Linked DNA regions of Homo sapiens. The protein of the gene in region 4 purifies or fractionates together with the protein of the main gene of each other region. This does not show direct contact. Each region holds a gene or a part of one and is shown on either strand. Other genes may lie near its edges.

The links.
Region 1: the proteins of MERTK (region 4) and RASSF3 purify together in Homo sapiens (affinity purification with mass spectrometry, with the first as the bait; one large-scale study listed by BioGRID). This does not show direct contact.
Region 2: the proteins of MERTK (region 4) and TRA2A purify together in Homo sapiens (affinity purification with mass spectrometry; one large-scale study listed by BioGRID and IntAct). This does not show direct contact.
Region 3: the proteins of MERTK (region 4) and YTHDF2 purify together in Homo sapiens (affinity purification with mass spectrometry; one large-scale study listed by BioGRID and IntAct). This does not show direct contact.
Region 5: the proteins of MERTK (region 4) and SAFB purify together in Homo sapiens (affinity purification with mass spectrometry; one large-scale study listed by BioGRID and IntAct). This does not show direct contact.
Region 6: the proteins of MERTK (region 4) and GPI purify together in Homo sapiens (affinity purification with mass spectrometry; one large-scale study listed by BioGRID and IntAct). This does not show direct contact.
Region 7: the proteins of MERTK (region 4) and HBA1 purify together in Homo sapiens (affinity purification with mass spectrometry, with the first as the bait; one large-scale study listed by BioGRID). This does not show direct contact.

Annotation. Positions count from the first base shown.
Region 1 is NC_000012.12:64,683,495-64,686,994, reverse strand, and holds part of RASSF3 (ras association domain-containing protein 3), read right to left. Parts: intron 2,209-3,500; coding exon 2,101-2,208; intron 1-2,100.
Region 2 is NC_000007.14:23,511,482-23,514,981, forward strand, and holds part of TRA2A (transformer-2 protein homolog alpha), read right to left. Parts: intron 1,602-3,500; coding exon 1,413-1,601; intron 1-1,412. UniProt on the Homo sapiens protein: Sequence-specific RNA-binding protein which participates in the control of pre-mRNA splicing.
Region 3 is NC_000001.11:28,764,440-28,767,939, reverse strand, and holds part of YTHDF2 (YTH domain-containing family protein 2), read right to left. Parts: intron 1-3,500. UniProt on the Homo sapiens protein: Specifically recognizes and binds N6-methyladenosine (m6A)-containing RNAs, and regulates their stability. M6A is a modification present at internal sites of mRNAs and some non-coding RNAs and plays a role in mRNA stability and processing.
Region 4 is NC_000002.12:111,905,107-111,908,606, forward strand, and holds part of MERTK (tyrosine-protein kinase Mer precursor), read left to right. Parts: intron 1-3,500. UniProt on the Homo sapiens protein: Receptor tyrosine kinase that transduces signals from the extracellular matrix into the cytoplasm by binding to several ligands including LGALS3, TUB, TULP1 or GAS6.
Region 5 is NC_000019.10:5,640,083-5,643,582, reverse strand, and holds part of SAFB (scaffold attachment factor B1), read right to left. Parts: intron 1,990-3,500; coding exon 1,925-1,989; intron 1,844-1,924; coding exon 1,637-1,843; intron 1-1,636. UniProt on the Homo sapiens protein: Binds to scaffold/matrix attachment region (S/MAR) DNA and forms a molecular assembly point to allow the formation of a 'transcriptosomal' complex (consisting of SR proteins and RNA polymerase II) coupling transcription and RNA processing.
Region 6 is NC_000019.10:34,392,696-34,396,195, reverse strand, and holds part of GPI (glucose-6-phosphate isomerase), read right to left. Parts: intron 2,949-3,500; coding exon 2,888-2,948; intron 2,469-2,887; coding exon 2,425-2,468; intron 2,283-2,424; coding exon 2,130-2,282; intron 1-2,129. UniProt on the Homo sapiens protein: In the cytoplasm, catalyzes the conversion of glucose-6-phosphate to fructose-6-phosphate, the second step in glycolysis, and the reverse reaction during gluconeogenesis.
Region 7 is NC_000016.10:175,240-178,022, reverse strand, and holds HBA1 (hemoglobin subunit alpha), read right to left. Parts: upstream 1,344-2,783; 5' UTR 1,307-1,343; coding exon 1,212-1,306; intron 1,095-1,211; coding exon 890-1,094; intron 741-889; coding exon 612-740; 3' UTR 501-611; downstream 1-500. UniProt on the Homo sapiens protein: Involved in oxygen transport from the lung to the various peripheral tissues.

The DNA.
Region 1 (3,500 bases), on a different chromosome or scaffold from region 4:
ACAGTATATTTAGAAAAGATTTATTGTACTGTTTTATTAAACTGTCAAGTGTTACATATAAATGCCACAGTTAAAGTAGAACATTTAAAACTATCTTTATGGTGTGTTATTTTTCTTCCTTCCCACAAGATCAATTTTCAATCCTAATTCTCTAGTTTGTTCTTTTTTGAGACAGGGTCTCACTCTCTCACCCAGGCTGGAGTGCAGTGGCACGAACACAGCTCACTGCAGCCTCAACTTCCTGAGTTCAAGTGATCCTCCTGCCTCAGCCTCCTGAGTAGCTGGGACTGCAGGCACCCGCCACCATGCCTGGCTAATTTTTCTATTTTTAGGAGAGATGGGGTTTTGCCATGTTGACTAGGCTGGCCTTGAACTCTTTTTTTTGAGATGGAGTCTTGCTCTGTCGCCTAGGCTGGAGTGCAGTGGCACGATCTTGCCTCACTGCAAGCTCTGCCTCCTGGGTTCACGCCATTCTTCTGCCTCAGCCTCCCGCGTAGCTGGGACTACAGGCGCCCGCCACCACGCCTGGCTAATTTTTGTATTTTTAGTAGAGACAGGGTTTCACTGTGTTAGCCAGGATGGTCTCGATCTCCTGACCTCGTGATCTGCCCACCTCGGCCTCCCAAAGTGCTGGATTACAGGCGTGAGCCACCGTCGAACTCTTGACTTCAAGTGATCCACCCGCCTCAGCCTCCCAAAATGCTGAGATTACAGGTGTGAGCCACTGTGCCCAGCCTAAAATTTTTATCTTTAAAATGACATGGATAATTTGTATCTGTTTTAGTCTCTATCAGGAAAGGAAAAAAAAAAAACATAGCAAGTGGATTTCTCCTTTGATGAAAAAATGTGTTTGAAAAAGAAATCTTGCTGCTGGAATGATGAAGAGTTATCTTGGGATTCTCTGCTCCTCTCCCCTCTTTTTGGAGGAGTTCTACCAGGGAGGGGTCCTTTACCACAAGGGTTTCTATCTGAAAGCTCCTCCCCAAGAATCACCGATTCGGTAGGGCCTGTTTTAAACCAATCACCTTGTCCTTTACCAAACTCTGTCAGTTCACAGTAAACAGACTGAGAGACGGGGATCCAAGTGCCCTGGAAACTGGCGCCAAGGGCTGACAAGTGCCATGAAGAAGGCGGGCCACCCAATGGGTAGGCGAGACCTAGATGCCAGCTAAGTTTAGAGGAACATGAATACTCTAGCTCCGCTGTCAGCTCGTTTCCCTATCCCCAGGCCCTGAGGCTTCTCCCTCCTGTACGCCGACTCCCTGCATGCTTCAGTGTGGCACAATGCTGTGGAAGCCTGCGACAGCGACGTGGAAGAAACTGAGTATTAAGTACCTTGTCTTACACTAACGACCGGCAGAGAAAACTATCCTATTATATACCTCTATATTCCAATCCATGGGCTCAAAATCCTTTCCCTGACACTTCCATATTTATTTTGTACAAGACAAAAACTTAGGGGCTTCTGATACCTGTAATCCCAGCACTTTGGGAGGCCAAGCTGGGCAGATCCCTTGAGCCAAGGAATTTGAGATGAGCCTGGGTGATATGGCAAAACCCCGTCTCTACAAAAAATACAAAAATTAGCTGGGCATGGTGGCAAGCACCTGTGGTCCCAGCTACTCGGGAGGCTGAGGTGGGAGGATTACTTGAGCCCGGAGGTCGAGGCTGCAGTGAGCGGTGATCGTGCCACTGCTCTCCAGCCCAGGTGACAGAGCAAAACCTTGTTTCAAAACAAAACAAAACAAAAAACCTTACCTGAGGTCTTCTTAGAATCTGAGTCACCATTTCTGTATGTTAGGCAATGATGCTAAAAATCCTTTGAGGAGGGAGGGGTGGGTCACAAAATCTTTTAAAATAAAATTATAAGTGTTTCACTTTTTTAAGGTTAACCCAGCAACTGATTTTTGAGACAAAGCTACTTCACAATACAGATTTAAATGGAAAGCCACAGAAATATTCCACTTTCCTGTTCTGTATACCTTGACTACTACACTTCTACAAATGCTATTCAGATATTTAGAACTATAGATTGTAGTACCAACAATTTATATTTGTCTTTTGACAGGTGTCAACCTAAATAGTATTTTGAGTGCTTACCAAGGTCATCTTCAACTTGTCTGTGACTGCTAAGTTGTATTTATGAACTTTCTCTTTGATCTCCTCTTTGCTGAGGTAACTGTGGGTTTCCTTCTCTTTCTCAACATCCTAGAAGAAAAACAAGACATGTCACATGTGAGCAATCATAAAAAAAAGTGCGGATAGGCCGGGCGCAGTGGCTCACGCCTGTAATCCCAGCACTTTGGGAGGCTGAGGTGGGCGGATCACCTGAGGTTGGGAGTTCAATACCACCCTGACCAAAATGGAGAAACCCTGTCTCTACTAAAATTACGAAATTAGCTGGGCATGGTGGCGCACGCTTGTAAACCCAGCTACTTGGGAGGCTGAGGCAGGAGAATCACTTTGAACGTGAGAGGCAGAGGTTGTGGTAAGCTGAGATCACGCCATTGCACTCCAGCCTGGGCAACAAGAGCAAAACTCTGTCTCAAAAAAAAAAAACAAACAAACAAACAAACAGATAAGTCAGGATTTTTTAAAAATTCCACACAAGGGCCGGGCACGGTGGTGGAAGCCTGCAATCCCAGGACTTTGAGAGGCCAAGGACGGCAGAGCTTAAGCCCTGGAGATTGTGACCAGGCTGGGCAACATGAGGAAACTCTATCTCTACAAAAAATACAAAAATTAGCTGGGCACAGTGGTGCACACCTGTAGTCGCAGCTAGTTAGGAGGCTGAGGTGGGAGCATCACCTCAGCCCAGAGGTCGAGGCTGTAGTGAGCCATAATTATGCCACTATGCTCTAGCCTGGGTGACAGAGTGCGACCCTGTCTCAAAAAAAAAAAAAAAAAAATTACAACCACACAAGAAGAACCTTATTGTTCTTGCATGTTACCTTGAAACACACACACACACACACACACACTCACTCTCTCTCTCTCTCTCTCTCCTTCTCTCCCTCGCTGCTTCTCTTTCTCTCTTACCTTCAAACTCTCCAGGCTCATCCACCAATTACGGTTCTCATTCTTTCATACTACAGTCTTCCTAGGGGATATATTTTTTAAGAAAACTAATTTGTCAGCAGCTACAAGTAACACTTCATTACCAATATATTCTGCAAAACTGTCATTGCTAAATTTCCCTTCTGCAAAAACATCATTTCCTCAGCATGCCTGCTAGATTGGCCATTTCTATTTTAAACAACATTTAAAGACATTTACCACAAGTTTCTCTTTAGCAACTTGTATTAACTCTGTTGTCTTTATAGCTTTACAATATTTATTGGCAAAAAGTACAGCAGTTAATCAGTATTAACTGGCACTATTCACGGACTCATACTAATCACTGACCTGTAAACTGTACACAACTACCAGAGGATAATTCATCTTCCAAACAAATCCCCAGGCCAAGATACAAGTAGCCAGACTTCTCCTTCCCACCCTTC
Region 2 (3,500 bases), on a different chromosome or scaffold from region 4:
ATATATTAATTTAAAAGACAGAAGGTCTAACAAAACTAAAAGTATTGAGCTTCAAATTCTTTAAAATGCAATTTTCTAAATCAATTACTATCAACTTTTAGTAAAGAGTAAGCGAGCCTAGGCCAGGTATGGTGGTTCACATCAGTAATTCTAGCACCTTGGGAAGCCAAGGCAGGAGGAACAGTTGAGGCCAGGAGTTGTTCCGAGACCAGCCTAAGCAACACAGCAAGACTCCCTGCAAAAACTTAAAGCAAGCCTACCACTTCCTTTATAATACCGAACATGTTAGAATAGCACTATTTCAAGTCATTGACATTGATTAGTTCATTGTGTTAGGCAAGTTAAGAATAGCACTAAAAAATTATCAATTCTTTCCATGTACTATTTTTCAATTATTGAACACACTGATAAATGAACATTTAGAGAATAGAAAAACAAGTTCCTTCCTCATTATAGACACAAAATTAAACATATCAAACCCACACATCAGAATTATTTTTTAAAAGTTAATGTAATCATCTGTTTGGAGCATCATTATGGCTTATTCAAAAGAGAACACTTACACATATACTTTTTCCATTAATTTAAACACATATAGCTCACTTTACACAGCCAGATTTCAATTAGGATATGCCTATAGCAGAGAGCATAACCAAAAAAAGTGAAACTGTAGTCACTCCAATTGTTAACACTGAGAGGCAGAGTTTGAATCAGGTCAAAATTAGAAAGGACACAACAGGCCATGTATGATGGCTCATGCCTGTAAACCCAGCATTCTGGGAGGATCACTTGAGGCCAGGAGTTCGAGATCAGCCTGGGCAACATAGTGAGACCTCATCTCTACAACAAAAAATTATCTGGGCATGGTGGCCCACACTTGTAGTGTCTGCTACTCAGGAGGCTGAGGTAGGAGGACTGCTTGAGCCCAGGAGGTCGAGGCTGCACTCCAGCCTGGGCAACAGAGCAAAATCAGCAAGATCCTATCTTTTTTTTTTGAGACGGAGTCTCACTGTGTCGCCCAGGCTGGAGTACAGTGGCGCAATCTCGGCTCACTGTAAGCTCTGCCTCCCGGGTTCGCGCCATTCTCCTGCCTCAGACTCCCGAGTAGCTGGGACTACAAGCGCCGGCCACCACGCCTGGCTAATTGTTTGTATTTTTAGTAGAGACGGGGTTTCACCGTGTTAGCCAGGATAGTCTCGATCTCCTGACCTCGTGATCCACCTGCCTCGGCCTCCCAAAGTGCTGGGATTACAGACATGAGCCACCGCGCCTGGACGCAAGATCCTATCTTTAAAAAAAAAAAAAAGAAAAAAAGGAAGAAAAAAGGATGCAATGTTTACAGAAATAAGTCTATTAATCAACTTTTCACACTAATTCAGTACTATAATCAGGCATATAAAAGACAAATTTACCTCCTTTGAGTCATCTATTCTCTCAAAATACACAAAAGCAAATCCTCGAGATCGCCCAGTTCGCTGATCATAAACCACATTGACACCACTCAATGGTCCATATCGAGAAAATACTTCACGAAGATCCCTCTCTGTTGTGTACAAACTGAGGCCAAACACTCCAAGGCAAGTGTTGGGATCTGGATTTGCCTATTGAATGGAAATATTATTTAAAACTCCAAATTAAAATCAAAATCAAAGAAACACAGAAATACTTTGTTTAGAACACCTCATCTAATACACAATAAATATATTGTTTCTAATAATTTGGAGATAAGATTTTAAGAGAACTAGAGCAGATGAGCCATATTTTACAATTCACAGTACACCCAAGGCCTTCTTTGGGATATGCTTTCTGTCTATAGCCTGAATTAAAATGTTCTTACTCTCCAGCCCAGCAATGTTCATAATGTATCCTGAAAATCTTGTAATCCCAGCATTTTGGGAGGCTGAGGTGGGTGGATCACCTGAGGTTAGGAGTTCGAGACCAGCCTGGCCAACATGGTGAAACCCCATCTCTACTAAAAATACAAAAATTAGCTGGGCATGGTGGCCGGCGCCTGTAATCCCAGCTACTCCAGAGGCTGAGGCAGGAGAATCGCTTGAATCCAGAAGGTGGAGGTTGCAGTGAGCCAAGATCGAGCCATTGCACTCCAGCCTAGGCGACAAGAGTGTTAGAAATGTTTGTTTCTCGGTGTTGTAAAGAAATAGCACTTGAACATACATTTTTTTAGTAAGGCCATTTTTATTTTCTGTAGAAAGGGTACGCTTGTCAGCAGTTTTGTCACAAGAGTACACTGAACAAAGGAGACAGGGTCATTTATAATCTGACGTGTCTACCTTACTGTTGTGTCTGTTTTTTATTGGCTGGAATGGGACTTCACATTCTGATTTGTCTTGATTGGCTAGTAACTTCAAACTTTTTAAAAGAGGCAAAGGCGGAGGAGAACAAAGGAAGGAGGAAGTAATTTGTGGAATGTTGAGAAAGGTAAAAACACCTTTAAATAAGGAAGAGGAACAGGCTATGACCTAATGCTTGTTTGGACCAGTATAAGCATGTTAGGGCAAATACTTAGGCTAAATTGTGGGAGCTAAGAACATAAAGTACATTGATTTTTTTACTACGGCTAGTAGATTTTTTTTTTTTTTTTTGAGACGGAGTTTCACTCTTGTTGCCCAGGCTGGAGGGCAATGGTGCGATCTTGGCTCACCGCAACCTCCACCTCCCGAGGTCCAGCCATTCTCCTGCTTCAGCCTCCCAAGTAGACGGGATTACAGGCATGCACCACCACCCCCAGCTAATTTTGTATTTTTAAGTAGAGATGGGGTTTCTCCATGTTGGTCAGCCTGGTCTCCAACTCCCAACCTCAGGTGATCCACCCCACCCGGCCTAGCAGATATTTAAGAATGTTAGCACAGCTCTTTGAATAAATTTTGCTTCTAAGAGAAATTATTATCTATTTCTAATTAGATGGGGAGGAAAATCTCTTTGAACAACCTTTACTTTTTATAAGAGTGAAACTCCGTCTCACTTATAAAAAAAAAGTATCCTCAGTTTAATACCATCTTTCTAGTTAATTCAAATGCTTTACATCCCTTACAGATTTGTACTTAATCTGACTTCATCTGTAATTGTTGATTTAGACCTCCTCTCCTCCATTTTCTTTCTTTTTTTTTTCTGAGACAGGGCCTCACTCTCTTGCCCAAGCTGGAGTTTACTGGCCTGATCATGGCTCACTGCAGCCTTGGCCTCCTTGGGCTCAGGGAATCCTCCCATCTCAGCCTCCCAAGTAGTCGGGATTACAAGCGTGAGCCAATATGCCTGGCCCATTTTCATTCTTTAGCGAGGATATTCTTTCAGTGTTCCCACAATCCAGATTTTAGAAATAAATTTACAGATTTCAAAACATTAAATAATGACATGCTCCACCACAGTTTAAGTTAGTATCCTGTGGGAGAAGCATAGTACAGCATGCAAACATGTTCTAAGAACTTTAGAGCCCGGCTGCCTGGTTGAAACCTAGACTGCTAGTTAGCAAAAACTAAACC
Region 3 (3,500 bases), on a different chromosome or scaffold from region 4:
TGAGCCACCGCGCCCGGCCTCAGAATTTTTTAAATTTTACATTTTTACCAAGGCAGGTGGATCATGAGGTCAAGAGAGTGAGACATCCTGGCCAACATGGTGAAACCCCGTCTCTACTAAAAATACAAAAATTAGCTGGCGTGGTGGCACGCGCCTGTAGTCCCAGCACTTTGGGAGGCCGAGGCGGGCGGATCACGAGGTCAGGAGATCGAGACCATCCCGGCTAACACGGTGAAACCCCATCTCTACTAAAAATACAAAAAATTAGCCAGGCGTGGTGGTAGGCACCTGTAATCTCAGCTACTCAGGAGGCTCAGGCAGGAGAATGGCGTGAACCCGGAAGGCGGAGCTTGCAGTGAGCCGAGATCGTGCCACTGCACTCCAGCCTGGGCGACAAAGCGAGACTCTATCTCAAAAAATAAATAAATAAATAAATAAAATAAAAATAAATAAAATGAAATTCCACCTATTATCTCTTAATGTAACTCCAGAAATACAGACAATAAATTATTTGTCCCAAATTGTAACACTGAATTAGAAACTTAGACTATAGATGTCCTTTTTCCTAAGAAACATGTTTATATTTAAGTTAGTTGGCATACTTAATAGCATTTAAAATAGTCAAGAAAAAATTCAAAACAGCATCATGCAATTATATTTACTACAGCACTGTCTCATTCTTTAAACACCAAATTTGTTCCTCTTTATAATGTGCAATTTTAAGTCTCACAAATACCTATGTTCAATATTGCTTCAAAAGTCAAACTTTCTCAATTTTAACACAACAATACCAAAACAGCCAGAAGTGGTGGCTCACACCTGTAATCCCAACACTTTGGGAGGCCAAGGCAGATAAGACTGCTTGAGGCCAGGAGTTCAAGACCAGCCTGGCCAACATATGGAGACACTGTCTCTACAAAAAAAAAAAAAAAAATCTTTTAATTAGGCATGGTGGTGGCATGTGCCTGTGGTCCCAGCTACTTGGGGGGTGAGCTGGGAGGATGGCTTAAGCACAGGAGGTCAAGGCTGTAGTGAGCCCTGATCACACCACTGTACTCCAGCCTGGGTGACAAAATGAGACCCCATCATTAAAAAAAAAAAAAGAGAAGGAAAAGTATAGATTGGAAACAGAGTGGGAAGCCAGGGCATCAGTAGGCTCCTTCTTGAAGGACCTCCCACTGGCCAAATCTGTGACTTGAGCATTACGTAATATTAATGGTAAGTAAACACCTATCATAGTAATACCTGAATCAAGCAAGAATTATCAATGCTAGAATTAAAAGGAGACAGTTTGATGAGAAACAAGTTATTTACATAGTGTCAACTATTTTCCCACGTATTAAAAAAAAAATTAAGTGGAGAACCTGGTGGACAACACTTTACCCAAAGTGACCAAAGTTAACATTATCAGTAATGGCATAAACAGACATCTTGTACCTCCCAGTATGATGCACTGAGAAGGATACAACCTCACTTGAAACCAGTGAAGACAGACTTGAAACCAGTGAAGACAGACTTAGGAGGGCTGGGCGCAATAGCTCACTCCTGTAATCCCAGCACTCTGGGAGGCGGAAGCTGGCAGATAGCTTGAGCACAGGAGTTCAAGACCAGCCTGGGCAACCTGGCAAAGCCCTTGTCTTACATTACAAATACATACATACACACATACACACACACAAAATTATCTGGGTGTGGTGGCATGCACCTGTAGTCCCAGCAACCTGGGAAATCACTTAAGCCCGGGGAGATGAAGGCAGCAGTGAGCCATGATCGTGCCACTGCACTCTGGCCTAGGCAACAGAATGAGACCCTATCTCAAAACAATGAAAACAACAAATAACAACTTAGGAGACATGAAACCACGGTCTCCAAATGTTCGTGGACTAGAACTTGGACCACAAAAAAATTGCTATCAAGGACATTAAGACAACTGATAAAGTCTGAATAAGATCTGTGGGTAACAACATTGTGTCAATTAAATTTCCTGATTTTGATAAATGCACTGTGGTTATGTAACTGCATGTCTTTGTTCTTGGGAACTACACACTAAAATACCTAGGAGAAAAGACATGATGTCTAGACTGTAACTCTCTGGCTCAGGAAAACATTATATATACACATTTTAAAAACATTCAAATGATAAAGCAAATGTGGCAAAATGTGGAAGAGTAAATCTGAAATTATTCCAAGGCCCAGCATGGTAGCTCACATCTGCCACTCACACTTTAGAAGGCTGAGGCAGGGGACGTGCTTGAGGCCAGGAGTTCAAGACCAGCCTTGGGCAACATAGTGAGACCCTGTCTCTACAACAACAACAACAACAACAAATTTAACTTAGCTGGGTGTGGTGGTGCGTGCCTGTAATCCTAGCTACTTGGATTAGCTACTTGGAAGGCTGAGGTGGGAGGACAGCTTGAACCCAGGAGTTAGAGGTTACAGTGAGCTATGATGCCACCGCTACATTCTAGCCTGGCAGCCTGGGTGACAGAGGCCCTGTCTCTCAAAACTTTTTTTAAAAATGTATTTCAAAACATAAAACTGGGGGGAAGGGAAGAAATGAATTTATTTCTTCTGCAAAAAAGTTAGGTGCACTAAGTTATATTTAACACTTAATAACACTTTAATGTTTATATAATTACAGGCTGGGTGTGGTGGCTCATGTCTGTAATCTCAGTACTTTGAGGCCGAGGCAGGTGGATCACTTAAGGCCAGAGTTCGAGACCAGCCTGGGCAAGGTGGCAAAACCCCGTCTCTACAAAAAAAATACAAATATTAGCCAGCATGCTGGCACACACCTATAGTCCCAGCTGCTGGGGAGGCTGAAGGCAGGAGGATGCAGTGAGCCGAGATTGCACCACTGCACTCCAGCCTGGGTAACAGGTGAAGATAAATTTAAACCAGGAACAGAGGGCCTTACACCTTGTTCAGTCCTAGCTACTTGGGAGGCTGAAGCAAGAGGATCATCTGAGCCCAGGAATTTGAGTCTGTAATGAACTATGATCACAGCTGTGAATAGTCACTGCACTTCAGCCTAGAGAACATAGCGAGACCTCATCTTAAAAAAAAAACAAAAAACAAAAAACAAAAAAACATTAAGGCCTGGCACGGTGGATCACCCGAGTAATCCTAGCACTCTAGGAGGCCGAGGAAGGTGGGATCACCTGAGGTCAGGAGTTCGAGACCAGCATGGCCAACATGGCAAAACCCCATCTCTACTAAAAATAAAAAATTGAGGCCAGGCACGATGGCCCACGCCTGTAATCCCAGCACTTTGGGAGGCCGAGGTGGGTGGATCACGAGGTCAGGAGTTCAAGACCAGCATGGCCAACATGGCAAAACCCCATCTCTACTAAAAATAAAAAATTGGGGCCGGGCACGATGGCTCACGCCTGTAATCCCAGCACTTTGAGAGGCCGAGGTGGGTGGATCACGAGGTCAGGAGTTCAAGATCAGCCTGGGCAAGATGGTGAAACCCCCACTACTAAAAAAAACAAAAAAAA
Region 4 (3,500 bases):
ATCCTGGCACTTCCTCCCTCCTAGGCCTTACTTTTCTCTGTCTGAACCATGGCTGTTGAACTGGGTGATTCTTAGCCACAGGAAGGGAGGGCCTAGATCTTCCCTAGTTTTGTGAGACTCTGCAGCTGGACAGCCATCCCTTCATGGGAGCTGCCACATTTTCACTCTCGGGGCCTCTGACAGGCACTAGGATCTAGGGACATGGCCGGCATGTGAAACCCTGGGCTGCTATGGCCAGGTCACCTCCTCAGGTCCTGGTGTTTCAGAGTGATAAAGAAGAAAGGGTGATTATGTCTCAAACATTTCATTGAGAAACCTACACTGTTCTTTTTTTTTTTTTTTTTTTTTTTGACATGGAGGCTCACTCTGTCACCCAGGCTGGAGTGCAGTGGCGCGATCTCAGCTTACTGCAGCCTCCTGGGTTCAAGCGATTGAACCCAGGGTTCAACCTCCTGGGTTCAAGCGGTTCTCCTGTCTCAGCCTCCCGAGTAGCTGGGATTACAGGCACCCATTACCACACCCAGCTAATTTTTGTATTTTTTAGTAGAGACAACGTTTCACAATGTTGGCCTGGCTGGTCTCGAACTCCTGGCCTCAGGTGATTGGCCCACCTCAGCCTCCCAAAGTGCTGGGATTATAGGCGTGAGCCACCGTGCCCAGCCAGAAACCTACACTCAATTCTAAAGCATTTTATTTCATCCTTCTTGGCTAGTTCTTCAATTATCAGTGCTTCTTTCACTCAATGGTAAATGGATTTTCCATGAGTCTTGGAGGTGGCAGGCAGGGAGAAGGGGCAGAAGGAAAGAGAAAGAGAGAACAGATGTTGGCTTTATGTTTGGAATAAAATTACACCAAAAGCTAAGAACATTTATATTTGTGCTTAGAGAAACCCCATTTCATTTCAGAAGCTCAATGCCTGGATTTTTTTGCCAGCACATTTTACACTTGTATGTTTCTCCTTGTACTCTGTGCCTCCATGTATTTCTGTTGGTCCCTTGAAAACAAGATCCAATCATCACAGGGTTAGTGCTCTGCCCTAGGTCACTCCAGTAGGGGTCCATCCTCCGGATTTAGATCTCAGGTTGGCACTTATGCAAATGCTTTCTGACAGGTCCCCTTTTTTGTGTAATCTGCTTTTTCTTTGAGGATCTAGATACCTCAGCATTCAGGGACAGTAAACATCTTAGAACTTGCCTTAGCTGTGGTCTTGCCTCTCATTAGATACACAAAGAAAAGCCTTGTTTATTTTGGAGAAGGAATTGTTTTGTTATTTTAAGCCTTAGGGCCTTGTGGTTAGAGCTACCAATAGTAGATTGGCTTCATTATGGTTTTGAAAATGATCACTTTCACAAGTAAGAACAGGCTGTCTTAGTGGAGAATATTAGAACAGAGACTCAAACTTAACTGAAAGTTGTTTTCTGTCACTGTGCCGCTTAGGGAATTCTCAGTGCGGTGATAAATATTCATGGACTTCCCAAGTGTTGTGTGTGCCTGGAGGCCAGTTTTTCACTTGTTCCAATTAACGGCAGGCTGCCTCCACACAGGAAGTGAAACCAGCCTTTAAGCCTTTTTACAATTCTGGCACATGATTTGAAGATTTGGTGATGAAAGCAATGTTCTTTGAAAGTTTTGGAGCAAATAAAAAAAAGAAGCTTTTTAGATTCACTCTTAGTTTAAAAAATAACCACTTGGGGAGTTGAAAGATGTAAGTTCTCATCCTAGCTTTGAGAGGAACCTGCAGGGACAGCTGGGGTATAGTGTGTCCTCCTTCTAAAACTCCACATCCTCACTTGTCAAATGGGAAAGCAGATGGATGATTCTAGGCCCCTTTGGGGCAGAACACTGATTCCATCTAAAGGGGAGAGGTGGGAAGGGATACTTTCTCCCATGCCGTTTGGGACACAGAGCCTCAGCCTGAGTTTGACCCTCAGCCCTGTGCGTGACTCTCGGTGTGAACTTTCTTAGACATCAGCCCAGAAACGGAGATGGAGGCTGTGTGAAGAGTTTCATTAAAAATGAGTGATGCAGCCAGGTGCGGTGGCTCACGCCTGTAATCCCAGCACTTTGGGAGGTCAGGGTGGGTGGATCACCTGAGGTCAGGAGTTTGAGACCAGCCTGACCAACATGGTAAAACCCTGTCTCTACTAAATACAAAAAATTAGCCAGGCGTGGTGGCGCATGCCTGTAATCCCAGCAACTTGGGAGGCTGAGGCAGAAGAATCACTTGAACCCAGGAGGCGGAGGTTGCAGTGAGCCGAGATTGTGCCACTGCACTCCAGCCTGGGCAATAACAGTAAAACTCCGTATCAAAAAAAAGAGTGATGCTAGTGGGTTCTTTGCTGTTGACAGTTGCCATTCCCTGCCACCTGGGCTGTCTGTTCCTCCAGTAAGTACCCCCTCCAACTCTGGGGCAATAGAATAGTCTGGAAACATGGAGGTATATTTCTGAGAATATTGGATCTCCCCAAACACATATGACCTCTTCCTGCTAAATCTTCTGAGAGACAGAGGGATGGACTAAGCTTTTTCCGGGGTGGATGGAGTGGGGCATATCCCCCCTGAGGGGGAACAGCAGAATCTTCAGGATCAGGGAGAATGATGTCATTTTCAAAAGTTTATTCATTCAATATTATTATGTCATTTTATAATTGGAAATTTAAAAAATATTTTGTGATATAAACTGTAGAATGCAACGCTCTTAAATATTCTGGCTGGGAAGATAAGGATAAAGACAATGATTCATGACAGGGGTTCTCAAGAAGAGGTATGCTTCAGAACTACCTAGGAAGCATTTTCGCAAGGTAGAAGCTCAGGTTCCCAGGACCCGTGGACTCAATCTTTGGGGCTGTGGCCCTGCCTTGTGTATGTCCAAGCTATTCTGTGCCACCTCTTTCGTTACACTCCACTGATGCAGTATATCTGATGTCTGATTCTTGGGCAGTGGTGGGGAGCCTCTCTCTATTACCCCATCCCAGGAGGGGTATGTATCAGAACCTGGCCATTGAGGGTAGGAGTAAGCTAATTATGCTTATCCAAGGGAGGTGGCAATTCCTAGACAAAGTGAGAATGTTGAGCTGGATGATTCATTAAGCCAAGTGCCCTTAGGATTTTAGGACCTGTTGGTGGAAAGAGATACAGCTAATCAGGTGGGCCAACCAGTAAATAGTAAGGCCTTTCCCTTTTTACCATTATATTTTTTCCTCTCAGCTACTCTTTATACTCACATCTTATTATAAAATATTTAGGATACACAAAAGGATTTAACAGGTAATAAAACTCGCCTGTGTACTCACTACTTGACGTAAGAAGTCAGACATTAACACTACAGTGGAAGTCCCCGGTCGTTCCTCTCTCCAGTGTCATCCCCTCACTCCCACCCAGAGAAAACCATTATCCCACATTGGGTGTTTCAATTCCCATGCATGTCTTTATCCTTTGATCATGATTGACATGATTATGTTGGTAACACTCTATAGTGTTGTTTTGCACCATGTCAGTTA
Region 5 (3,500 bases), on a different chromosome or scaffold from region 4:
TCAGGAAGGGTAAGTAACTCCTGCTGCTGTGCAAGTGTTTCTGCTACTCCTTTTTAGAAGCTGATGAATGGGACTCACCAAAAATTGCACACCCTATTTGTATCAGAATAACTCTCAGCCACTTCTCAGACTCAAATCCTCCATTCAAATATGACAATCTGCTACCTCTAAGGATACTTGGAATCAGTTCCAAGAGGAAATGCAAAAATATTCTGAAGAAATGCAGAAGCGGATTGACTGGCATACAACAAGGTTTCTGTCCACCAAGACTGCTTGAGAAGCACTCACTGCGGAAGACCTAAGGACCAGGACAAGAACAGGGCCCCCCACGAGCCAACACAGAAAGGGCCCCACAGCTTCTCATATGCATCACTTTTTCTGTCTGACAAACATTAATCATCAGGTAAATGAAATTAATATCAAATTAATGGCACCAAGACAACATCGTACATAAGTTAAGTACATGGCCTCTGGAATTAGCCTGATCTTAGTTCTTATTCTGTTATGAGCTGTGTGTCATCTGGAGATGTTTTTTAGTTCTTGCCTTCCCAATTTCCTCAACTGAAAATGGGGACAACAGCACCTCATGTTGCTATTAGAAGAATTAAAGGGCACATGCTGGGCGCGGTGGCTCACACCTGTAATCTCAGCACTTTGGGAGTCTGAGGCAGGCGGATCACCTGAGGTCAAGAGTTCAAAACCAGCCTGGCCAACATGGTGAAAACCGTCTCTACTAAAGATACAAGAAAATTAGTCGGGCTTGGTGGTGGGCGCCTATAATCCCAGCTACTCACTTGGGAGGCTGAGGGAGGAGATCACTTGAACCCAGGGGGCAGAGGTTGCAGTGAGCTGAGATCGCGCCACTGCACTCCAGCCTGGGCAACAACAGCAAAACTCTGTCTCAGAAAAAAAAAAAAAAAAAAAAAAAAAAGAAAGGAAGGGCATAATGCCAATGCCTGGTAGGTAGTATTCAGGAAATACTACCCACTATAATCTTACTATCCATTTGATATGTTTCTAACAGGAAAAAAATTTAGGTTTAAAAACAACATCCAGGTTAATACTTGAGGTTAACTCTTAAGATAGGTATCAACTGGCTGTGTTTTTTTTTTTGTTTGTTTGTTTTAAACAAGAGATAGGGTTCTGTCAGACTCTGCCACCCAGGCTGGACTTCAATTGCACAATCATAGCTTAGTACAGCCTTGAACTCCTGGGCTGCTCCTTCCACCTCAGCTTTCTGAGTTACCGGATTACATGAGTGCATCAAGGCACCCAGCTCAACAATTGCTTCTTAACAGGAAAACACCAACTTCTAACCTCTTCCTAGTTCAATGCTTTCAAGGTACCTAGGCCATAACACCACAGATCAAGTCCGGCAACAGGAAGAGTCTGAATGGTTGTCCTCAAAATGTCTCATACTGTATGCCGCAAATGGATAGCAAGTACATATGAAATGTTATAAGACATCACCTTTCAACAAAACAAATTGGTTCAGAATCATCTGAACCAACTGACCCTTATTCTACTGAACTGGCATTACAGAACAACTTACTTCCCAATATGAAACTGATCACCTATTTTAATTGTGGAACTGATACATTCAGGGCACATTCTAGAGACATTGCCGGTTACCTACAGCATGTTCCTGAAGCTGCTCCGGAAGCTCTTTCATTTCCCCCTCGACTAGCTCTCTACTATCCGACAGGGACTCCTGGAGGTTATCAGCATCATCGTCTTCGACACAATCTGCAACGCTTCCATTATCAATTTCTGCTTCATCCAACACACTGATATCCATGATGTCGATGTCCTGCAAGTTCTCCAGACTGGTCTCAACATCCTCCTGTGACACAACCAGACCGAACCATCATGTGACCGCCACTGGTCCATCCACCACGCTACTCACTCGCAAGGCTGCACATACCTGTCCATCCCCAGAGTTTTCCTCCAGCCCGTTATCTTCCACACCCTCTTCTTCTGGTTTGCGCCCTGAAGACAGAATCATTTACAGCATGAGATCAAATGATACGCACTTTACAGAAGCAACAATGCCCTGAGCACTACACAAGTGGTCACTTTATAAACATCTGAGACACCTCACTACTTAGGAACACTTCCTAATCCAGGAATGAGGCCATTCCGCACAAGACAGCCCTGCCCCACCCCCAAGCAGAAGAGGTTCTGTTCTTGTCTGAGCTGTGGAAGTAGAAGTGCAGAAAACAGGTTCTTAGTAAAGTTGAACAGGATCAGACCTGTCCTCAGCTCTGCCCTTCTTCCTATCCCAAGTGTCCTTGTTTGAGGGAAAAATTATTTGTTGCAAATGTGCTGCCTTTTAGTTAAGGAACATGTTTTCCCACAGAAACTGCGCATGCCCGAGTATGCACATTTTTAATGCTTAAAAAGAAAAAAGAAGGGCCGGATGCGATGGCTTACGCCTGTAATCCCAGCACTTTGGGAGGCCTAGGCGGGCGGATCACCTGAGGTCAGGAGTTCGAGACCAGCCTGGAAAACATGGTGAAACCCCGTCTCTACTAAAAATACAGGACAATCACTTGAACCCAGGAGGCGGAGGTTGCACTGAGCCGAGACTGCGCCACTGCACTCCAGCCTGGGCAACAAGAGCGAAACTCGGTTAAAAAAAAAAAAAAAAGAAAAACAAAAAACCCACATACTATCAAGATACTCCAGAGGGGCTGGGCACGGTGGCTCATGCCTGTTAAGTCCAGCACATTAGGAGGCCGAGACAGGTGGATCACTTGAGGTCAGGAGTTTGACACCAGCCTGGCCAACCTGACGAAACCCTGTCTCAACTAAAAATACAAAAAACTAGCTGGTTGTGGTGGCGGTTGCCAGTAATCTCAGCTACTCAGGAGGCGGAGGCAGGAAAATCGCTTGAACTCTGGAGGTTTAGGTTGCAGTGAGCTGAGATCGTGCCGCTGCACTCCAGCCTGGATGACAGAGCAAGACTCTGTCTCAAAAACAAAACAAAACAAAACAAAAATTGCAGAGGAAGGTTTTTTTTTAACTTATACATTTCCATCAACAGCGAATTAAAAAGTGCCAATCTCGTGCACTTGTAGTCCCAGCCACTCGGGAGGCTGAGGCAGGAGAATCGCTTGAATCCGGGAGGCAGAGGTTGCAGTTAGCCGAGATCACACCACTGCACTCCAGTCTGGCAACAGAGCGAGACTCCATCTCCAGAAAAAAAAAAAAAAAAAAAAAAAGCCAATCTTTCTTGAATCTCTGTTAAAAATTTGCTATTTTTCTTTATCTTTGCCAATATGCTAGGTAAGAAAAGGAATACTGTTTTAACACGAATTTATCTCCTGACTACTCAAATTGCTTTGAATCATTTGCTTTTTGTTGTTGATCACCTGTACTTTTCTAAAAATTTCTGATTTACACCCCACTATTTAAAAACTTCGGCTCCAGCCAGGCGCGGTGGCTCACGCCTGTAATCCCAGCACTTGGGAGGCCGAGGCAGGCGGATCACCTGAGGT
Region 6 (3,500 bases), on a different chromosome or scaffold from region 4:
GAGGCCAAGGCAGGCGGATCACCTGAGGTTGGAAGTTTGAGACCAGCCTGATTAACATGGAGAAACCCTGTCTCTACTAAAAATACAAAATTAGCCAGGTGTGATGGCGCATGCCTGTAATCCCAGCTGCTTGGGAGGCTGAGGCAGGAGAATCGCTTGAACCCGGGAGGCGGAGGTTGTGGTGAGCCGAGATCATGCCACTGCACTCCAGACTGGGCAACAAGAGCAAAACTCCAACTCAAAAAAAAAGAAAAAAAAAAAAAAAGGAAAAGAAAGGAAAAGAAAGAAAAAAAACCCAACCCTCTTCCTGCAAGTCTTGATCCTTCACACACTGTACGCAAATCCTGCTCCTTCCTGCACCATGCCAAAGTCCTGCCCAGATGCTCCAGGCAGACCCACCCTGCCCTGACACCGTGAGGTGGACCTGCACACGTGTCCACAGGCACGATCCCCTTCCTCCCCACACCAGTGAGGACACAGCCTCCCAACCTTTCCTGCTTAAGCCACTGTGCAGGAAGGACTCATGCCCAGGAAAAGGTGGGTCTGGAGGTCAGGCAAGGACCTCCCTAAAGACAAAATCGGTCACAAAATCAGCTCATTTCTTAAGGGAGAGCAGGCTGGGGTCCAGAGTGCACAGCTTCTTTTTTTCCCAAAGAGACAGAGTCTCACTCTGTCACTCAGGCTGGAGTACAGTGGTAGAATCATTGCTCACTGAAGCCTCGACCTCTTGGGCTCAAGCAAGCCTCTTGCCTCAGCCTCCCAAGTAGCTGGGACTATAGGTGCCGCACCACCATGCCTGGCTACTGTTAGTTTTTGTGGGTTTTTTTTGTAGAGACCGGGCCTCACTACGTTGCCCAGGCTGGTCTTGAACTCCTGGGCTCAAGCAATTCCCCCCAGCCTCTGCCTCCCAAGGTGCTGGGATTGCAGGCATCAGCCACCATGCCTGGCTAAGAGTACAGCCTTTGAGGGCTGTCACCACAACTAAATGCTAGGCTTTGGGTACCCACCTGGGCCCTGGTCATGGCAACCCTCACCAAGGCAGCTGGGATTTGGGGAACCTTGGCCTCTCCTTCAGTCACAGGATTTGCTTCCAGGTGTTGGTGAAGCCTTCTGTACCTGCCCAGAGCAACTCAAGAGCTGCTGGACAGGGACTGGCTTTGTACTAAACAAAAGCAAGGATAGGGTTGGGCATGGTGGCTCATGCCTGTAATCCCAGCACTTTGGGAGGCCAAGGCAGGTGGATCGCTTGAGGCCAGGAGTTCGAAACCAGCCTGGGCAACATAGTGAAACCCCGTTTCCACTAAAAATACAAAAATTAGCCAGGCAAGGTGGTGCATGCCTGCAATCCCAGCTACTCGGGAGGCTGAGGCACAGGAATTGCTTGAACTCAGGAAGCGGAGGTTGCAATGAGCCGAGATCGCGCCACTGCACTCCTGCCTGGGAAACAGAGTGAGAATCTGTTCAAAAAAAAAAAAGCAGGGACAGGTGTGGAAAAGCTTTCTGGGACATAATGTGACTAGGAGAGGGCCTGCTAAGCCTCTCGGGGGGCTCTGGAGATCCCAAGGGAGAAGAGGGCCATGTAGTCCAAAGAGGCCACCACAGACTAGATACACACTTGCTTTTCTGGAGGGATAAAGGCAGTGCAGGCTATAAGGGATTCCAGCTTGCAGCCCCACCCTATGGCCAAATCCCACCTCCTCAGACATGGACAGACCCAGGTCCTCATACCTGTACCAGATCCTTCCTCCCCAGATACTAACAGACCTAGGGCCTCATACCAGGGCTAGATCCTACGTCCTCAGACACTATGGTAGGCATGCATAGTGATGTGCAAGAAAGAAGTGACCCCAGCTGAGAAACATCCCCTGAGTCAAGCCAGGACCTCCCTAGCCAGGGCACCATGATCACCAGTCATGCCCCTCCCATGGTGATCAAACTCAGATGACACTCAAATGGAACCAACCTCAGTTACAAAGATTCATCCTGAGACAAGGAGCACAGATGGACCTTGGCCAGGCCCAAGGGCAATGGGGCAAAGAGCTCCTGGAGGAGCTGAAACCCAGGTTCCTAGACCTCCCAGACCCCCCACAAATCTTGCTGACTCCAAGGCCTGGCTTGGCAGCTGGTACCTGCTGGAAGTACGCAGCAAAGCGGTGCAGGTACTGGTCATAGGGCAGCATGGCGTGTGTCTCACACCCAAAGCAGTTGATGTACCAGATACCCAGCAGGGCCAGCAAGACGGGGGCGTTCTTCTCCAGGGGCGTCGTGCGGAAGTGCTGGTCCTGAAACAGGAGCAGGATGAGTGGGAGCTGAGCAGCTGCACGGGGAGGGGAGGGACAGGACAGTGGGGGAGAAAGCGGGGGACCAGGACCAACACACGCGCCTCTGGCCAGCACTTGGCAGAGAACCAGCCTCAGCACTCACCATCCAGTGAGCCCCCGAGAGCAGCTGCTCGAAGTTGTCAAAACCTGTGACACAAAAGCAGAGTCAACAGAAGTGGCCACACCCTGCGTCCTGTGGGCAGTGGGCACAGCTCCTTCTGCAACGAAGGAAGGCTGCATGGAGAGCCAGAAGATACGACATGGGAGGACTCGGACCTAGACAAAGCCCCTCCAGTGAGAGGTGGCCCTGAGTGCAGGGATCTGACTCTGCCTAGGATAGGAGAGAAACAGGACTGCAGTTGTGAGGGGCAAAGACGGGGGCCAACTTGCACACGCAAAAAAACCCAGACCTTCCTTCTGGACATGAAATAAATATCCCAGCCAGCTGCAGAGAGGCCAGCAGCCTGTGAGGACAGCATGATGTTCAGGGACACAAGCCCCCTACCCCGACCTTAGACTGCAACACTGTCTCCCACAGGGGCTGCAAGACACAGAAACACACTCACCCACGTGCAGGGCAATGGAGAGTCCGATGGCCGACCACAGCGAGTAGCGTCCTCCCACCCACTAGGAGAGACAGGACAAGGTGCTGAGGGAGGGCCGGCACACCCCGCCCCCCACCTCCTGCCGGAAACCCTGTCCCTGGTCTTGCACAGGGGCGTCTCGGAGGGCCCTGGCCCAACCCACCTCCAGGAAGCAAGGCAGCAGGCAGGTGCTGGCAACACATGGGAAGACCAACAGGGCAGACTACAGATGACTGACCACAGCCACAAGACAAACTGAAGAGCTTACCGTGGTCTTCCCTGAGATGTCGGGCCCTGTCTCTGCAGACACCAGCAGACCCAGGACCTCATACCTGTGCCAGGGCCCACCTCCTCAGACACGGACACACCCAGGGCCTCATACCTGCGCCAGGGCCCACCTCCTCAGACACGGACAGACCCCAGGCCTCATACCTGTGCCAGGGCCCACCTCCTCAGACACGGACACACCCAGATCCTCATACTCATACCAGATCCTACCTCCTCAGATATGGACAGACCCAGGGTCTCACACCCATGCCCAGCCTCACCTCCCCAGACACTGGCAGACCCAAGGCCTCATACCTGCACACAGCTT
Region 7 (2,783 bases), on a different chromosome or scaffold from region 4:
CAGTTGCACCCCGCACCCCTGATTTCATCTAGACTGTGCCTGTATCTGGGAGGTTTTACGGAGACTAGTGGGAACGATGGGGGATCAATGCAGCCATGCTGGAGTGGGACTTCTCTGACCTACCCACCACCCATATGTGGGAGGACCTCTGGGAAACCAGTGACGTCCCAGGCAGAAAGCCAGCCAGTTCTTGGCACAAGAGTGCCCAGAAACGTAAAGATGGATAAATTCATTATTTCAGCAAACCTGCATTGAATCTGAAAAGTCTGGGAATAAAACTCGGGAAAGAGCAAATGCATCCTCAAAGCACTCTAGGGTCCAGCGTTTTTCCAGCTGGACTTCGCGGTGGCTCCACTTTCCCTCCTCCATCCCCTCCTCCCGCCCCTGCCTTTTCCTACCCTATCCAGCTGCAGAGAGGTTCTAGCCATGTGTGTCCCAGCTGCTGTCCACGCCCATGCCTGGCACGTTTGCTGAGGGAAAAAACTCAGGCACACACAGGCTGCCGCCCACTCAGACTTTATTCAAAGACCACGGGGGTACGGGTGCAGGAAGGGGAGGAGGGGCTGGGGGGAGGCCCAAGGGGCAAGAAGCATGGCCACCGAGGCTCCAGCTTAACGGTATTTGGAGGTCAGCACGGTGCTCACAGAAGCCAGGAACTTGTCCAGGGAGGCGTGCACCGCAGGGGTGAACTCGGCGGGGAGGTGGGCGGCCAGGGTCACCAGCAGGCAGTGGCTTAGGAGCTGTGCAGAGAAGAGGGTCAGTGGGGCCGAGGGCCCAGGCCCGCAGCCGCCGCCTGCGCTACACCTCCCGCAACCCGCGTGATCCTCTGCCCTGCGAGGAAGGCGCCATCTCGCCCCTCGACCCAGATCGCTCCCGGCCCGCCGCTCACCTTGAAGTTGACCGGGTCCACCCGAAGCTTGTGCGCGTGCAGGTCGCTCAGGGCGGACAGCGCGTTGGGCATGTCGTCCACGTGCGCCACGGCGTTGGTCAGCGCGTCGGCCACCTTCTTGCCGTGGCCCTTAACCTGGGCAGAGCCGTGGCTCAGGTCGAAGTGCGGGAAGTAGGTCTTGGTGGTGGGGAAGGACAGGAACATCCTGCGGGGAGAAGCAGAGTGAGGGGTGGGGTTTGGGTCCGGGGCCAGGACGGTTGAGGGTGGCCTGTGGGTCCGGGCGGGCGAGGAGCCCGGGTCGGAGCAGGGGAGGGAGCCTCACCTCTCCAGGGCCTCCGCACCATACTCGCCAGCGTGCGCGCCGACCTTACCCCAGGCGGCCTTGACGTTGGTCTTGTCGGCAGGAGACAGCACCATGGTGGGTTCTCTCTGAGTCTGTGGGGACCAGAAGAGTGCCGGGCCGCGAGCGCGCCAGGGTTTATGCTTGGGGCGCGGGGGCACGCCCGGCCGGGCGGCGCTCATTGGCTGGCGCGGAGCCCGGGGCGCGGCCTGGACCGCAGGGGAGTCCCGGGCGGGGCCTGCGCGGGGCCGGGCGGCGGGCTCGGCCTCCCCTGGGGGTGCACGCGGGGCGGGGGCCAGGACGTCTCCACCCTCCACCCGCCACTCCACTCCCGCCCATCCCGCTCGCCCGGGGGCAGGGCGGTAGCGGCGCTGGCGGGGCCGGCCCGTTGGGGTCGGGCGCTGTCGGCTCGTGCACCCCGGAGCGCAGCGCCACCCTTTCCTTTCGGGCGCCGGAGCGTCCCTAGCGAGGGAGAAAGTCAGCCCGCACCCCCGCCCCGGCCTGGCACGCGCTGGACGCGCATCGACTCCAGCGGGATCGGGGAACACACGGGCGAGCGAGTGCGAGCCGGGAGGCTTCGCCCAATCCTGGGGCGGAGAGGAATGCGCGCACCCGGACGCCCTGGCCCATAGGAACTCAAAAGAATTTCTGCGCAGAGCCCCTCCTGCTCTCCAGCCTCGCTTCCTGCAGCTCCCTTTCCCTCTGGCGATAGTCACTAGTGTGCTTGAGTGACAGGCACCGGGAAGGAATAAACACCAGGACGCAAAAAGCACGGGGCTGGGCTGGGGGCGGCTCCAGATTCAGACTCCTCTACCCGGGGTTGTGGGGTGGCGCGTGGGGTGGTGGGTGCTGGCTAAGCCCCAAGTCATGGACTCACAGTTTGTGTGACTGACTCTCCCACTGGCCTAGAGGTCGTGGTTCACTGTGACACCCCCAGCTCTCCAAATGCTATCTGATGGAAGACTTGCTAGGTAAATACTGGTTAAACAGGTAAACAAAGCAATAGCTGGAACCGGCTGGAGCATTCAACCTCCTCTGGGAGGTAGGCAGTCCTCTAACCATCACACAAGTACACACAGAGGTGCAGACCTCATCACAGGCCCTGAGGAAGTCTGGAGGTGTGGACGAGGCATTCAAGGTGACCAGGGTTAGTCTGAGGGCTTCCTGGAGGAGGTGAGACTTAAGGATATGTATTAGGTGGAGGAGGTGGAGGAGGGAGGAGGCTTGGCTCGGGGAGGGGAAAGGACAGAGGAGACAAGGGCCCTGTGGTTGGAGAATGGAGGTGGGGAGATGTTGGGGTGATGAGGCTGGCCAGCTCCTGCAGGGTGAGGAAGGAAGGGGTGGACTTCTGGGGAAGGGTGGGAGGTGCAGGAGTGCCAGTGGGTGCATCCCTGTGCATGAAAAGTGATGTTTTTTGGGGGGATGGTACTGAGGAGAAAACAGCCTGAGAAATCACTGATAAGTCATTTCCTGGGGGTCTGGCAGAAGATCTTGCTTTGAGGAGTGCATCAGGTCAGCACCCTTCAGCCTGCTCCCTGCCCTGTCTCCCCAGGC